2 separate regions of the Homo sapiens genome follow, and region 2 is linked to region 1. A link means that fine-mapping ties the variant in region 1 to the expression of a gene that starts in the linked region. Tissue or cell type: whole blood. Region 1 holds a variant in brackets; the other region holds the start of a gene. All regions are shown on one strand. Distances are between the middles of the regions.

The links. PIP is the estimated chance that this variant, and not a neighbour inherited with it, causes the effect.
Region 2: OTUD7A starts here. The variant in region 1 is fine-mapped to the expression of OTUD7A in whole blood (TOPMed, PIP 0.98).

What each region holds. Positions count from the first base shown.
Region 1 is chr15:31,432,192-31,440,446 of GRCh38, reverse strand. It overlaps a transcript of KLF13 not described here. Among named protein-coding and RNA genes, the nearest start is that of KLF13, 110 kb to the right of the region's middle. RefSeq lists an enhancer at 5,080-5,599. The variant C/T (reference allele first, on the strand shown) is at 4,996.
Region 2 is chr15:31,867,379-31,875,378 of GRCh38, reverse strand. OTUD7A (OTU deubiquitinase 7A) reads left to right here and starts at 4,706. Exons shown (of 13, transcript NM_001382637.1): 1 at 4,706-4,872. RefSeq lists silencers at 4,674-4,743, 7,239-7,533.

The DNA.
Region 1 (8,255 bases):
TCGGCCGGGCGCGGTGGCTAACGCCTGTTATCCCAACACTTTGGGAGGCCAAGACGGGCGGATCACCTGAGATCGGGAGTTCGAGACCAGCCTGACCAACATGGAGAAACCCCGTCTCTACTAAAACTACAAAATTAGCCGGGCATGGTGGTGCATGCCTGTAATCCCAGCTACTCGGAAGGCTGAGGCAGGAGAATCGCTTGGACCGGGAGGCGGAGGTTGCCGTGAGCCGAGATCATGCCATTGCACTCCAGCCTGGGCAATAAGAGCGAAACTCCGTCTCAAAAAAAGAAAAGAAAAAAAAAAGATACAAAATTTCAGTTAAAGAGGAGGAATAAATTCAGGAAGTCTATTGTACAGTATGGCGACTATAGTTAATAACAACGTATTATAGACTTGAAAATTGCTGAGAGTACATTTTAAGTGTTCTTACACCAAAATGTAGGTGAGGTAATGGATATGTTAATTAGCTTGATTTAGACACCCACAATGTATACATACTGTATATCGCACATCATGTTGTATACCATACATATATACAATTTCATCAATTTAAATTAAAAAAAGATATTAGCTCATATTAGTATTTCAATCAGCCAGCCCAGGAATATTTGATAGAGGAGGGAGGCATGGTGCAGATCCCAAGAGACTGAGAGAAGGAGCAGAGGAGCTATCATGGGGGCGGTGGGGCCTCAGATTGCCCAGGGATAGCTGAGGTGTCAGGGGAGGCCAACACGTGCTGCAGCACCAAACAGCACCTAACCTCAAGGCTGAGCACAGCGAAGGTGCGTTTCCCCTCACATAAAGTGCACTTCAGACATGGGCAACTCTTGAAGGAGCAGTCGCCCTGGTGGCAGGTCTCCACCCGAGGCCTCCTCCATGGTCACTGTGGGTGGGAAGAATGAGAGGACCTGGAGAGTCAGATTGGCGGGTAAATGCCTCCCCCTGGAGGTGACATAGCCTTCATCCATGACATGACCTCGCTCCCTGTGAGGGATTCAGGAGTGTCATCTCCCAGGGGTCTGGAAGGAGAGGAGAGTCAGATGGGGTCGGCGCTGAAAGTCTCCATCAGCAAAGGGCCGGAGCCTGTGGACTGATTCTACCTACACCCTGCTTTCACAGGAGGCTGGCTTGCTGCCTGGGGCTGCACTCTGTCACCTGTCAGCTGCATAGAGGTGCTCCTGGACTTACTATGAGGTCACATCCCAATAAACCCATTGTAGGTTGAAGATTTCATAAGGTGAAATTGCATGTAATACACCTAACCTACTGAGCATCATATCCCAGCCTACCTTACACATGCTCAGAACACTCATTTAGCCTACAGCTGGGCAAATTGTCTGGCCGCACAGTCCCCTATAAGGTCGTTTACCATCGTGATCACGTGGCTGGTGTCCGGCATCGAGAGAGTATCTTACCGCTTCCTACTGAATACATATTGCTTTCTCACCATTATAAAATCAGGAAAATTATAAGTGGAACCATCATAAGTTGGAAACTGTCTGTAATTACATGGCCATCTGATTGGCTTGTTAGAAGTCTCAACAATGGGTGCTCGCAGAGTGCTATGGAGAAGAGGTCTCTTGTGAAGTACTTAAGATCAGCTGAAGCCGCACTCAGCCTCACTTAGGAACACATGCACTCGGGAGGCAGGCAGAGAATTCAGCATGGGTGTGGCCTGCAGAGGTCACTCCCATTCCCCATTGGTACATGGACCTCCTACCTGTACAAGAGTGAAGATGTGACTGGGCTGAGTGAAGAACTGGGCTGGTCCCAGTTCTGCCTCTCCAGCCAAGGGGCTGGGCACATGACCCAAGGGAGAGGAGTCAGAAAGACCATGGGGACTTTCTTGAGCTCTCCGCTCTGGAAGCTCTAGCTTCTCTGACCTTGGAGTTATTGATGATCAGCTTGCTGCTGGGAGAGCTGGTCTGAGGAAGAAGCCTAAAAAGGGGGGAAACAGAATAGAATTGTGGAGAGAGAGAAAGAGAGAGAGAATACAGATCCAACTTGAGCTTCTAGAACCAACTGTGCCTGAAGCTATGACCCATTACACAGCCGATACGTGTCCTCTCTCTGTTTAAGCTAGCTTGAGCCATATCCTCAGTTATAAATGAAAAATTCCAATTACTAATTGGTCTTTGGTGCAAAGCCCAACACAGAATTCTCCTAAGCTAGGCTGACCCACTAGTAGCACTCCTTTGGTGAGGTCCCCTTTTCCCCTAAGGCCAACCTGTTAGTAAAAAAAGCAAGTTACCCGGCCTCTGTGTGGGAGCAGGAAGACACAGGCCCTTCTGCTGGGGGTGTGTCTATCCTGGCCCTTCCCTCTCATGCCCAGTCTTCCCATTTCCCTTCAAGCTCATGTCCTGTGGGCCCAGGGGTGGGGATGTGACAGAAATGAGGTGCTCCTAGGACCACTAGAGAGCCCCATCTCCTCTGACGTGGGGTGGCACAGGGGTCACTGAGTGAGCCTCCTCTGCCCCTCATGGGAGAGCTCCTCGTGACTCACTGCAGGGTTGGGTGCAATGGGGGACAGGGTTTGGGAAACAGAGACCTTCTCAAGTGAGCTCAGGCAGAGGGGGATTTCCTAGCAGGCCACAGGAGACCACGGCCCACCCACATGAGTGCTCTCGGGTCCTTGGGAGCGTGTGCAGCTTCTCTCTCCTGCACCTGCAGGGCCTGTTTCCTCTGGCCCCTTCTCCTCACATCCATTCTCTGCATGTGGGTTCTGCAGCCTGGTGGCCTGCCCTGGCTCGCCCTGGCCAGCAGCCTCAGCCCCCAGCCCGTGCAGATGTCATGTCCAAAGACCCGACCACAGAGCCCAAGGTCTAGCAGGTACAGCTGCCAGATAAAATGCAGAACATCCATGCAACATTTGGGATGTGCTTATACTAAACTCTTACTCAAATTTTTATTTGAAATTCAAATATAACTGGGTATCCTGTATTTTTATTTGCTAAGACCTGACAACACTCATGGGAGGAAGCCCCCGAGTGGGAAGAAAGGTTAAGGTAGAAAGGGAGATCCCAGGATTGCTTTCTGGGGTGCACGCCTCCCTGCACCCCACCCCACAGATATTTAGACTTTGAGGCAGGCCTTGGGCTGGCAGTGCCCCATCATCAATGGGGGAGCTGTAAGTGGCTGCGAGGGGAACCAGAGCAAACCCCAACATAAGGCATGGCAGAGAAGAGGCACCCTGCTGCTCCTCCACATTCCCAGTCACCTGTGAGGGCCTCCAGTGACCAGCATTCCAAGATCCTCTCCCCAGCCAGCAGCCACTACTGGCAGTGACTATGTGGAAGCTCCCAGTGCCCTTGGTGGGTATGAAACTGCTGGGGTCCATCTCTAACCTGGCCCAGTCTTTGCAGGGAAGGATGATAAATGGCCACTTGTCGCGCCCGTGCCCACACTTCATGAAAGTGTCCAGGGGATGGTCAGTCCACCTCAGATCGCCCTGGCAGTCAGGGCTGGCATTCCACACGTCTGGGGGGCAGCCTGAACTTTGAACACCCCACCCTCAGGGGTTACCTAGCTGACCCTGCAGCAGGGATCTAAGCCTGTGAGGATGGCAGCGAGTCCCTGAAGCCTGGTGACCTGAGCTCCGGAGCTCCGAGAGGATGGCTGGCTAGATATTTAGTTCTCTCTCCTATCTGTGGTAATGACTAGCAAAAGGGGGCTGGTCGGGTTCTTTCCAGGAAGGTAACATTGTCACACAGCATAGAGTAAAGGGACCCCACAACCTGCTGGGCAGTGCAGTAGCCCCAGGCCACACCTCTGTGAATGGAGCTTCCTGGTCTGGGACCCCAACTGGGGCGAGCGAGGGGTGAAGTGAGCAGTGCACAGCACATGGCATTCCCACATCCTGCACCCTCCCACCCACCCTTGCCTCACTCATGCCGGGCCCTGGGGGTGGGATGAACTGAGAGCCAGAAGTCCCACGTGAATGCAAAGCACTTCCACCCTGCTCACCTCCTACCACACCAAGTGCTGTGGTAAACACGCTCTCCCAGAGATGGGCCGAGCCACGGGCTGGGCATGGATTCTCACCATCATCTGCATTTAGAGGATACCAGGACACAGAGGGGCTGAGGGGCCCGGCTGCCACATGCACTCACATCCTCGGAGGCGTCACCCTGAGTTCCTCCTACTGGGACCCCAGAAACAAGTCATCCCCTAAGAAACCCCAGAGTCCCAGAGTGGTGCCTAGCTGCCTGGCCCTGTTCAGCTCTCACAGGTCCTGCCTACGATGGTGGAGGTGCTCCCTCCTTCCCTCCCTCCCTCCCTCCCTCCCTTTTTCCCCCGCCCTCCTTTCCTTCCTTATGGGCCAAGTGCATGTGCCTGCTCCACTGGGTGGAGCAGAGTGATCAGGACCCAAATTAAGGGACTCCTGGGGCCCTGCAGACATGACTCCTCCCGGCTCAGTGTTTGCCAAACTTAGACTATGATCCACTAAGGTTTGGACATAAGCTCAGTGGGCGGCGATTCCTAGAAAATAGGAGTGTATCACACGTAGGGTGAGTGTTTCATGAAAATGGCATAAGTTATACACATACATGAATAAATGTACATACATCTGTACATGCATGAATACAGCAACTATGAATGTATACTTTAATTTTCTGTAGAGATGGGGGATGAGTGTAGGGTGAATGTGTCTCGCATAAGGGTGAGTGTTTTTGTGAAATTGGTGCCAGTTTTAGATATCTGTACACGCCTGTGCATACACATGCATGTGGGGGTGCCGTGGAGATTGCATCATCTCCTGTGGGTCACAGCCAAAGACGTCTGAGCAACTCTCTTTTATTCTGTTTACTTCAAGAGAAAGAAAAAGTAACAAGCCAAAAGCCCCTGGGCTTCTCAGGAAACAGGCTGAGGGACACTTTCAGCACAGGATCGGAAGGTCTGGGGGTGGAGACACATCCTTTGCCCGCCACAGACACTGGAGGGCGTGTCGACATTGCCTGCAGATGTCCAGGAAAGAGCTTGGACCCTAGGGGG[C/T]GGAAAACCGTGGGTCTGTGACCTTGACAAGCTCTCCAGCCTCCCGGATCACCTTCCTTGTCTTCCTTGTCTTCTTTGTCACCTGTAAAAGATCGAGAGCCTCTTGAGGCCGTTTTGAGATTAAACACACCACCTGCGAAGGGTCCTAAGCATGACCCTAGCGAGACCCTTCTCCTAGTCATTCTCACAACCAAAGGTTTTCAGCTTGAAGAGAAAGCCCGAGCTGTCCCCAGTGTCCCTTACTGTGACAAAGGCCCCTCGGAACAGCCCCGCCCCCACAGCCTACAACACATTGAAAGGACAAAACATAGACAAAACTTAAAAGAAGTAAAAACACACACGTTGCACCCGCCCCGTCCCTTAGCGTGCATAAGATATACACAGGAAGGAAGTGGCCAGGGTGATTCAAGGAGGCTGAGCTGCGACGGCTCAAGGAAAGGAATATTTCTGACAAGTCCGCCTTGACTGTGGTTTTGAACATGATTTCAGCCCTAGTTTTGGCCAGTCCCCCGGCCCCCGCCAGCACTTGTGTCTGCAGTCTAGACACAGCAGCAAAGGGGGACACCCATGCAGGAAGGCGCCCAGTGGGCTGCCCCATGGCCTTGGGGTTGGAACCAGGGCAGGATGAGCAAAAGCTGCTGCGCGCCGGCATTGACGGGGGGCTGTGGCTGGGGCAGGGAGGCGTGGGCTGCTGCCCAATCCACAGGGCTGAGGATGAAGGGGAGCTCCAAGAAGCCTGCTTCCCAGTATTTTCCCAGCTACTGACTCACAAACAAACCTGTTTTTGATTTCTGCTCTTAACCCGCTTCAGGCCCTAGCAGGTCCAGCCCCGTGGAACCAGGGAGCTCCAGACACGTCATTCTCAAACTCAAAAGTCCCTTCCACGCCCCTGAGATAGCAAAGACCCAGTTCCAAGCCTCTCCCACCTCCATCCACAGCCTCTCCTGCTTTCCAAGCCTTTCCACACCCCAACTCTGGCTCAACTGGGGGCAAGCACCTGATTCGAACCTCCCTTGGGGGGTACTGTTGGTTCCCGGCCCTTCTTCCCAGTCCTCTATAAAAGGCCTGCCCATCCCCAGAGCCAGCTCAATGCCACCTCCTCTGTGCACCTTCCTGGCTCTCCAACTGGCAAGTCTCTCTCCTGCTGCCACTGATCCTGCATTTTACTGTGTGGGCAGCTGTATGTCCAGCTGTGTGCAGCTGTGTGAACCTGAGCAAGTCACTTACCTCTCTGAGCCTCATTTCCCCATCCGTAGAATGGGGATATTGAGAGTTGTCTGCTGAGATGAAGTAACGGACGCGAAGCAACGAGCCTGGCACACAGTCTTGGCACCAGCATTGTACCACCAGTGGCAATGATGGCAGGCCTCTTACCCTCCACTAGGTGGGAATCTCTCTGGGGTAGGACTTGGCTGTTCTCTCTCCATCTTCTCTTAGTTCTAAAAAGATTTCCTACATCTGGCAGGTGCTCAAAAAAGAAATGTGAGGGGTGGTGTCTCCTGGTGGTCTGGGGCCAGAAGATTCTTCACATGGCGAGGGCAGATAAGACCCTGAGCTAGGCAAACCACACCTTTTGCAGGAGGGGCAAGAGCGGCTGTGGGGCAGCTGTGGCCTCGGCTGCCAGGGACTGGCGTGGGACTGATGTCCCTTGCATGGAGCCTGAGTGGCCAGTCAGTGTCAGCCCACACAGGGGCACCACTGCTTCCAGACCAAGGGCTCAGGGAGACCTCACAGGGCTGGGCTCTCAGGGCAGAGGTATCTTTGAGATGACATTCCCTGGGGCCCACAAAGGTGCCATAGTCTGAGCCCACAGGCTGGACGGGCATCCTAGCCCATAGCCTTCAGTAGAACGGGAGGTGGGAAACAGGTGAGTTCTTCAACAGTCCTGGCTCACTGCCCTGATCGCATGTACAGGGTGCAGAGCACACAGGGACTGGGGAAGGGGGGGACCCTGGTGGAAGAGAGTGGACTCCCTGAGAGAAGGGAACACAGCTGACAGCCCAGGGAGACCAAGGTGGCTAGGGTTTTTAGGACAGAGGACCTAAACAGAGAGAGCTGGCAAAACACAGCCCTGGACATCTGCAAAGGGACTCCTCGGTTATTCACCTCATGTGTGTGGAGAAACTGCCTGGGGCCAGGGAAAAGCCACCGCATGGAAGTAAAGAACAGCAGCTGGAGCTCCCAGGGGGCTCCCACCAGCCAGAACGCATAACTCCTGATTCACTGGCCATTGGGCACAGTACTCAGTGGGTAGCCTAAACTCAGCCCTGGACTAAGCACTGCTCCACGCCCACCTAACAAATCATAAAAGCAAGACCCAACAAGATCAAACAGTTTCTCAGTAGCTTCATTGTATCTCAGAAAAAAAGCTCAAGATTATTTATGTGTTTATTTTTCTGCTTTGTTTTGAGGCAGAGTCTCGCTCTGTCGCCCAGGCTGGAGTGCAGTGGGCGCTGGAATCAGGCATGTGCCACCATTCCAGCTAATTTTTGTATTTTTAGTAGAGATGGGGTTTCACCATGTTGGCCAGGCTGGTCTTGAACTCCTGGCCTCAAGTTATCCGCCTGCCTCGGCCTCCCAAAGTGTTGGGATTACAGGCATGAGCTACCGCACCCAGCCTAAGATTATTTATAATAATACAAAAATATCCAGCATCCAGCATGGTAAAATTCACAATATCCAGCTTCAAATGGAAATGACCAGGCCAGGTGCAGTGGCTCATGCCTGTAATGCCAGCACTTTGGGAAGTTAAGGCAAGAGGATCGCTTGAGTCCAGGAGTTCAAGACTAGCCTGGGCAACAAAGCAAGGCCCCATCTCTACAAAAAAAATTAAAAGTTAGCTGGGTGTGGTGGTGCATGCCTATAGTCCCAGCTACTCAGGAAGCTGAGGCAGGGGGATATCTTGAGCCCAGGAGACTGAGGCTCCAGTGAGCGGTGATCACACCACTGCACTCCAGCCTGGGCAACGGAGTAAGACCTTATTTTAAAAAAAAAAAAAAGGAAAGAAAGAGAGAACAAGAAAGAAAGCAAGAAAAGGGAGGAATCAAGAAAAGGGAGGGAGGGAGGGAGGGAAGGAGACAGAGAAAGAAAATGACCAGGTATAGGAGAAGGTGTGGCCCGGTTGGCTGGTATGGAACCTTCTACGGAGGGCAGAGGCCATGTCTAGATAGGAAAACAGGGAGCAGAGAGAGGCGGTCAGGAAGGAGCCCCCTTTCCAGTGCAAGAGCTCCAGGAAAAAAAATTCTCAACTTCACTTCCCC
Region 2 (8,000 bases), 440 kb before region 1:
GGCGCCTGTAGTCCCAGCTACTTGGGAGGCTGAGGCAGGAGAATGACGTGAACCCGGGAGGCGGAGCTTGCAGTGAGCCGAGGTCGCGCCACTGCACTCCAGCCTGGGCGACAGAGCGAGACTCTGTCTCAAAAAAAAAAAAAAAAAAAAAAAAAAAGAAGAAGAAAAATAGGGACTTACTTGCTGAGGTAATTCACCATCAGACCTGTCCTTCAAGAAATGTTAAAAGATTTTCTCCAGACAGAAGGAAGATGATGTAGGTCAGAAACTTGGATCTATATTAAGAAAGGAAGTGTTGGAGAAGCAATAAATGGAGGTAAAATGAAATCTTTTATTTTTATTTTCATTAATAATTTAAAGGATAACTTCTTATTTAAAGCAAAAATAGTAACAGGTCATTGTAGCATATGGATAAGAGAAAAGACTAACAGCAATGCTACGAGGAATGGGAGGGAGGATTGGGAACACACTCTTATAAGATATCTACGTTACATGTGAAACAATACCATGATTTGAAGGTGAACACACATTAGTAAAAGAAGAAAATCTATATTAGAAACTCTAGGCTGGACATGATGGCTCAGACCTGTAATCCCAGCACTTTGGGAGGCCAAGGCAGGCAGATTGCTTGAGCTAACGAGCTTGAGACCAGCCTGGACAACATGGTGAAATCCTGTCTCTACAAAAATTGCAAAGATTAGCTGGGCATGGTAAGCTACTCAGGGGGCTAAGCTGGGAGGATGGCTTGAACCCAGGAGGCAGAGGATGCAGTGAGCCGAGATGGCACCACCGCACTCCAGCCTAGGCAATAGAGCCAGACTTTGTCTTAAAAAAAAAGCAAAGCAAAGAAAAAAGAAACTCTAGAATGGCCACTAAAAAATTCTTTAAAAAGTATAATTGATACTCTTTAAGAGAAGATAAAATAGAACCACACAAAATGCTCAATTAAAATCGGAGAAGGCAGAAAAAGCCGCCACTGGCAACCAGTAGGAAACAGTTACAAATATGATTGATATTCATCCAAATAGATCAACAATTGTGTTAAATGTGAATGGTCTAAATACACCAATTAAAAGACACAGATTGCTAGAGTAGATAACAAAACAAGACCCCACTATATCTTGTTGACATTAAATATAAAGTATCTGTTTGGTTAAAAGTAAAGGGATGAAGAAAGATATACCATGTTAACCCTGATCAAAAGAAAACTGGAGTAGCTGCATTAATTTCAGATAAAAGGGACTTGAGAAAAAGGAAAATTATCAGGGATGTGAGGGGAGGGATAGGTAAGAAACTCATAATCATAAAGGGGCTAATTCTCCAAGAATACATAATAACCCTAAATATGCATGTGCCTAAGAATAAAATGTCAAAATAAGTGAGGAAAAAATGATAAACCTGAAAGAAAAAATGGTCCAATCCACTATCATAGGATACTTCAACATTTCTCTATCCATGATTGATAAGATCAGATAGGCAAAAAATCGGTGAGGATATAATTGACCTAAACAGCATTATCAACTTTATTTAATTGATATTTGTAGATCTAGCAATAGCACAATACACATTCTTCTCAAGCTGGCATGGAATAATCACCAACATTGGCCACATTCTGATCTATAAAACACACCTTATCAAATTAAAGAAAAATAGAAATTAAACAAAGTATGTCTTCATACCACAATGGAAGTAACCTAGAAATCAAGAACAGAATGATAGCTGGAAAGTCCCAAATTATTGGAAACTAAACAACACATTTTTAAAAAACATTTGGGTCAAAGAGGAATCTCAAGAATAACTAAAAACATTGATCTAAATAAAAATTAAAGTACAACTTTTCTAAATTTGTGGGATGCAGTAAAAGCGGGGATATTTATAGCAGTAAATGTATACATTTGAAAAGAAGAAAAATCTAAAATCAACAACCTAAATTGTCACCTTGGATAATAGAGAAAGAAGAGCAATTTAAGCCTAAAACAAGCAGAACAAAGAGGAATAATAAAAATTAGAGAATGAAATTGAAAATAGAAAACAATAGAAAAAAATCAACAAAACAAAGAAAAAGCTGAAAAGATGATTAAAATTAATAAACCTGTCCAGGTTAACCAAGAAAAAAAGACATTGGGCATAGTTTGCCAATATCAAAAAATGAAAGAGGCGTCATCTCTACTAATTTCATAGATGTTAAAAGAATAATAAAGGTTTATGATGAACAACTTTACACCCACAAGTTTGAATATTAGATAAAAAGGACCGATTCCTTGAATGATACAACTACATTTTACAGAAAAGCAAACAGATCACCTAATAGCTCTGTATCCACAAAGAATCAATAATTAATGAAGTCTCAAAAAAATCACCAGATTCAGATGGTTTCACCAGGGAATTTTACCAAACATTTATGGAAGAATTGATATAGGTTCTTTACAATTTCTTACAGAAAATACAAGTAAATATTACTTCTTAACTCATTTTATGAGGCCAGCATTACCGGCATACCAAAATAAATTAAAGACATTACAAAAAAGAAAACTATAGCCAAATATTTCTCATGAACATAGATGCAAAAGTCTTCAACAAAATATTAGCATATTGAATACAATGGTGTATAAAAACAATTATATACCATGCCCAAGTAGAATTTGACCCAAGTATGCAAGACCGGTTCCTTGAAAATCAATTGAAAATCAATGTAACCCATCATATCAACAAGCTAAAGAAAATAAAATCACATGACCGTATCAATAGATGCAGAAAACGAATTTGGCAAAATCCAACATTCATTCATGATAAAAACTCTGCAAACTAGGAATAGAGAGAACTTCCTAATCTTGATAAAGAAGAACTAAAAAAATCCTACTGCTAACATCATATTTAGTGGTAAGAAACTGGATACTTCCCCTAAATTCAGGACAGGACTGTTAAGAGAATGAAAAGACAAGCTTCCACTGGAAGAAAATACCTGCAAAACACGTATCAGATAAAGTACTTCTATCCAAAATACACAAAGAACTCTTAAAACTCAACCATAAGAAAACAACCTTTTTTTTTTAATGGGCAAAAGATGTGAACAAACATCTCACCAAAGAAGATATACAGGTGCATATGAAAAGTTGCTCCACATAATTTTTCAGTAGAAAATTGAAAATTAACAACGATATAGCACTATATGCCTACTAGAATGTCTAAAATTATAGATGATAGACGGATGGATGGATGGATGGACAGATAGATAGATAAAGATAGCCAATATCAAGTGCTGGTGAGGATGAAGGAAAGGGATTCATATTTGCTGACAGTTATAAAAATGCTATAGCCACTCTAGAAAACTGTTTGGTTCTTATAAAGTTAAACAAATTTACCATAAGATCTAGCAATTGCACTCCTAGATATTTAGTCAACTAATTTAAAAAATTTGTCCGTACAAAACGCTGCATGCAAATGTTTATAGAATGTTTATTCACAGTCGCCAAAAACTGGAAACCACGCAAATATTCTCCAGTGGGTGACTAAACAAAATGTGGTACAAATAATGAGACTCCCCTCAACAATAAAAAGGACTATTACTATACACAATAACATGGATGAATCTCCAAGGTATAATGATGAGGGAATAAAGTCAGTTTCAAAATGTTACATATTGCGTAATTCCATGTATACGACACACTCACAAAGACAAAACCGTAGCAATGGAGAACCTATCAGTGGTTACCAAAAGTTAGGGTTGGCGGGGGCGCTGTTATAAAAGGGCAGAACTAGGGAGCTCTTTATTGCGCTAGTGGTTACATGAATCCAAACAAGGGTTCAAGATCACAGGATTATATATCAAATAACCAATTTTACTGAATATCAATTTTAAAAGTCAAATAAATTATTAAACACTATTAAACATATACAATGTTTAAAGTCAAGCAAAAAGTCCTAAACTAAAAGTAAAATAATGATTGTTTAGAAGTACACCAGGATGGTATGGGTCATCTGCAATATAACGTCCTGTTTGGGATAAGGAAGCGTGACTACATCTACAGGGTGACGTGAGAAGGGCCCAGAGCAGCGAGCAGGTCTTGCCATCAGGGAGGGGAACCATCTGAAGGGGTGGCGTGAAAAAGTCTTTAGAGGAAGGCAAAAAATGGGAAAAGGTCAGAGAACCTTTTTGGGAGGTAAAAGGACCAGCTTTGGATTAGGCGTGATGCACAGGCCCCAGCGCAGGGCGTAGAAACTGCAGCCTGGACAGCCTGGGTGGGAGAAAGTTTGGGATGTTTAGGAAGGAAGGGTGCGCCAGCCAGGGGGAAGAAACGAGACAGGTGGCCGCAGATGGCGCGAGTCAGGCAGCAGGAAAAGGCAGGCTGTTTAAGCAGCCTTTTCCTGCAGTCCAGGCGGAGAGCGCAGAAGGAGCACCCCGAGGGGCAAGCATGGGAGAGCCGGAGCGGGCTCGCGGGCGCGCGGGCGCTGTACGTCCCCTCCTCGGCTCGCGGCCGCGAGCACGCGCTCTCCGTGCCCGGCCCCGGAGGGGCGGGGGCGGGGCACAGGCGCGGCGCGCGCACGTCCGCGCGGGGCGGGGGCGGGGCGCGAACGCGACCGGTGACGTCAGAGGAGGGCGCGCGCCCGGAGGCAGCAGGCGGAGCCGGGAGGCGGGCGTTGTGCGCGGCCGCGGGCGGAGCGGAGGGGCGCGAGGGGCGGAGCGGAGCGCGGGAGGAGGCGGGGGAGGAGAGGCCACCGGGACCGCGAGCGGCAGCTGGGGAGGGGGCCGCGGAGCCCGAGCGGGAGCAAAACAGCTGATCTGGTTTTCCTTTAAAGCGAGAGAAAATGGAAGTCGGGTAGCGGCGACTGCGGCGCTGCGGGCTGGCGGAGCGGAGCGGCGCGGCGCGGCAGGTAAGACGGCGCTGGCCGCGGTGCTGCCGGCGGGCGGCGGGGCCGGGCCCGCGGACCAGGCAGGTGCGCTCTCCGGGCGCGGGGCCGGCGCCGTCTCCTTCCCGAGCTCCGTGGCGAGGCAGGTGGGCGTTGAGGCCGGGCGACCGCGGGGCCGGGGCGCGGGGACGCGGGGGGCGCGGGCCCCGGCTGGGCTCGCCGGCGCGTCTGCATTGCGGGCTCCGCTCCGGACCCCGCGGGCTCCCGGGCCACCGGCTCCGGCCCGGCGTGGCGCGCCTCTCTCGGGCAGGGCGCGGCGCTACCGCTGGGTCGGGGCTGCTGCCTCCGCTCAGCCCTTTGGCTGTCCGCACTGGAACGTGATGCCAGGCGTGGGGCGACCGACCCCTCGGTCCGTGCGCGCGCGTCGGGGGTCCCGCGGCTCTTGCAGACGGCCGGGCAGGGCCCGGCCCCGAGCCGCGCGCGAGGCCGCTCGCCGGGCACCGGAGCTGTGACTGCGTGGGTCCCCGCGGCCCGGCGCACCGCCGTCCCGCTCGCTCTGCTGGGTCTCGCTGGACAGCAGGCAAACCATTAAGGCAATTTGGCTGTGAACCCAGAGGCCTTCCCTAGTATCTCCTCACTGGAGGGGAAAAAATTGCATCTGCGGTGCTTTAAGTGCTCCTTTAAATTTGGGAGATGTCAGTGATGTCATCATTAACTAAAACTTTCCTTCATTGGACACAACCGCTCAAGTGTACCCTCCTCCCTCCCGGTGAAGCTATTGCAGCCCTTTGAGAATCTCTGTAATAAAATGGATTTGCCTCTGCTCTGTAAACTCAGCTACCTCACACAAGTGCAAATGACTTTTATTTCTGTCTATTGGCTTGAGAATGTATAGATTTAAGAGTAGCTGAAGGGAAACTTGTGAGACCCCGATCAGGGAAACGCTTCATCCACAGCACAAGGATCCAGGGGAAAGTCATGTATGACATGCACATGGTTACCGCCAGGTGATACCTTTGTAAATGGAAGTGGGCTGTAAGAGGAACAATTTTTAAAAATATGATGAGGCAGATAATGTGTCCAGGAAAAGGTTGACAGCGGGGCCTAAATCTTTACAGGTCTTAATTGCTTCAGGAAAATCTGCAGGTGTCCTTCACCATCCTCCTCCTCCTCCTCCAGGGTGTGCCCGGAGAAGCCTGCCCTGGGCGAAGGCGGGGAGGCAGGTTCACTAGGGTCCTCCCAGCAGCCGTGTGTCCCACCAGCTTCAAAGGCCTCTTCAAGACCCAAAGAGGGTTCACGAGAACAGAGGTAGATCTGCACGGCACACTCAGTTCTGGATAAACATTCCCCACTAAATGGGATCAACACTCCATTATTTTATTGTGAGTGTGCCATTAGTACCAATTCTTATGGGAACAAAACTAAGCAAGTTCCCAAGGCAATCTGAGTATCTACTCAAGCCTATCATATCGAAAGGATATCCAATAAGGGACAAAAGTATTGACATTTTTGTATTTAATAATTAATGACACCTCCTAATTGGTTAAAATAAGCATGCCTTAAATTGTTAGTGTGATTTTATTGGATCTGTAAGGAATTTAATACCATATGCCACTCAAAAGTTGGGACCTGGTTAGGAACTTCAATCTCTTGAACCCTGTATTGGTGTGAAAAGAATGGGAAAACAGTGGTTACTTAGGCCTTTAGTGTTCAGGCTGATAATGGGTGGAAATCGCCGCTTTACGAAGTATTGCCACGTGCGGGTCTCACTTGGGCCTGGATCATAGATGGCAGGTTTTCCCTTAGAAAGTAACTCCTGAGGCCCCCAAGCTTGGTGGAGAAGGAGAGGGGACACCTTTCTCTGAGCAAGTGTGTGTAATTCTTGGCCTCTGACCTCCTGATGGTGCCGCATTTATTCCCAATGGTGTGCCTAAGTGAGATGAGAAACTGGCTCCAAGTGAGCTGCTTTTGGATGACACTGCTCCCGCTGTGTGTAGTTGCTGTAGAACTTAACTCTTGAGTTGTGGCAGAGATTCTTCTTTACAACATGTCCTCAATAGTATGAAGATTGGTTTTTCAGGGTCTGCATTGCAAACTCTTTGAAAATGGAGTCTGTGAAATCAATCTGGCCCCGTATCCATCTTTTTGTTTTCACCTGTAGACTCGTGAAAATATTCACCACGTTTATGGTTTAACTCGCTGTAGTACTAGTAAAACTTCAAACGGAAGTGTTTCCACTAAATCTTTAGGTATGGGTCACTTATTTCCCCAAAACATTTTAAAACAACCGCTTTAAAGCCTCTTCATCCCGCTTGTATGTTTAGAGTGCTTAAATTTGGGAGTTGTCAGTGATTTCCCAAAAGAGATCACTGTCACATCTTCCGTTTCTAAGAAGTAAAAATTGCCCTGATTTTCTTTCTGTTCCCTTTGGGATATTAAGGTCATTTATTCATGCCTTAGGCCCACGGAAGAAAGGTTGAATTAGCTCTTGTGGGCCAGCAGGGGGCGTGCTAAACGCGGCTTGGCGGGCCTGTGTCAGAGCCACCTTGGGAGTGGATCTCCAAGTTGAGGTGGGTGCATGTGTGTGCGCCGGTGTGCTCCGCCCCCGCCCCCCGCCCCTCCCCCTCCGCTCCCGCATGCCTGTCTTCCAAGAGATGGAAACTTAAGGAAGGGTTGGGGGCACATACTTGAATGACCAGAGGTTGTGGAGTCTGGAATGTAGGCCTCCCTAGCAGAGATTGCTTCAGTGGCTCCATGTCTTTGGAAGGTGGCTCTTAGCACACTTTGAGTCTCAGGATTGAGTGCCTTCTCAGACTGCGGAAGTGAGTGTTAGTTTGGAGAGGAGAAAGTTGACTTCAGTGAACTACAGGCTGGTGTCCTGGTCATGGCGTGAATGTGCCAGCCAGGGCAACCCCGTGGAAATCCTCTCCTGCACACCCTTGATGTTTGCTCCTGGCTTTGACTCCCGATTGACTTAGGCCCTGGGACCCTGTGTGGTAGTACTTCCCAGAGGGGCCTATTTGACCCCTTGCACTGAATTATAGGTGGCGGATGTCCACTTAGGAAGTAATTCCTGTGGCCCCCAAGCCTGGTGGAGGAGGGAAGGGGCACTTTGCTCTGAGCAAGCTGTGTGCAAGTCATGGCCTCTGACC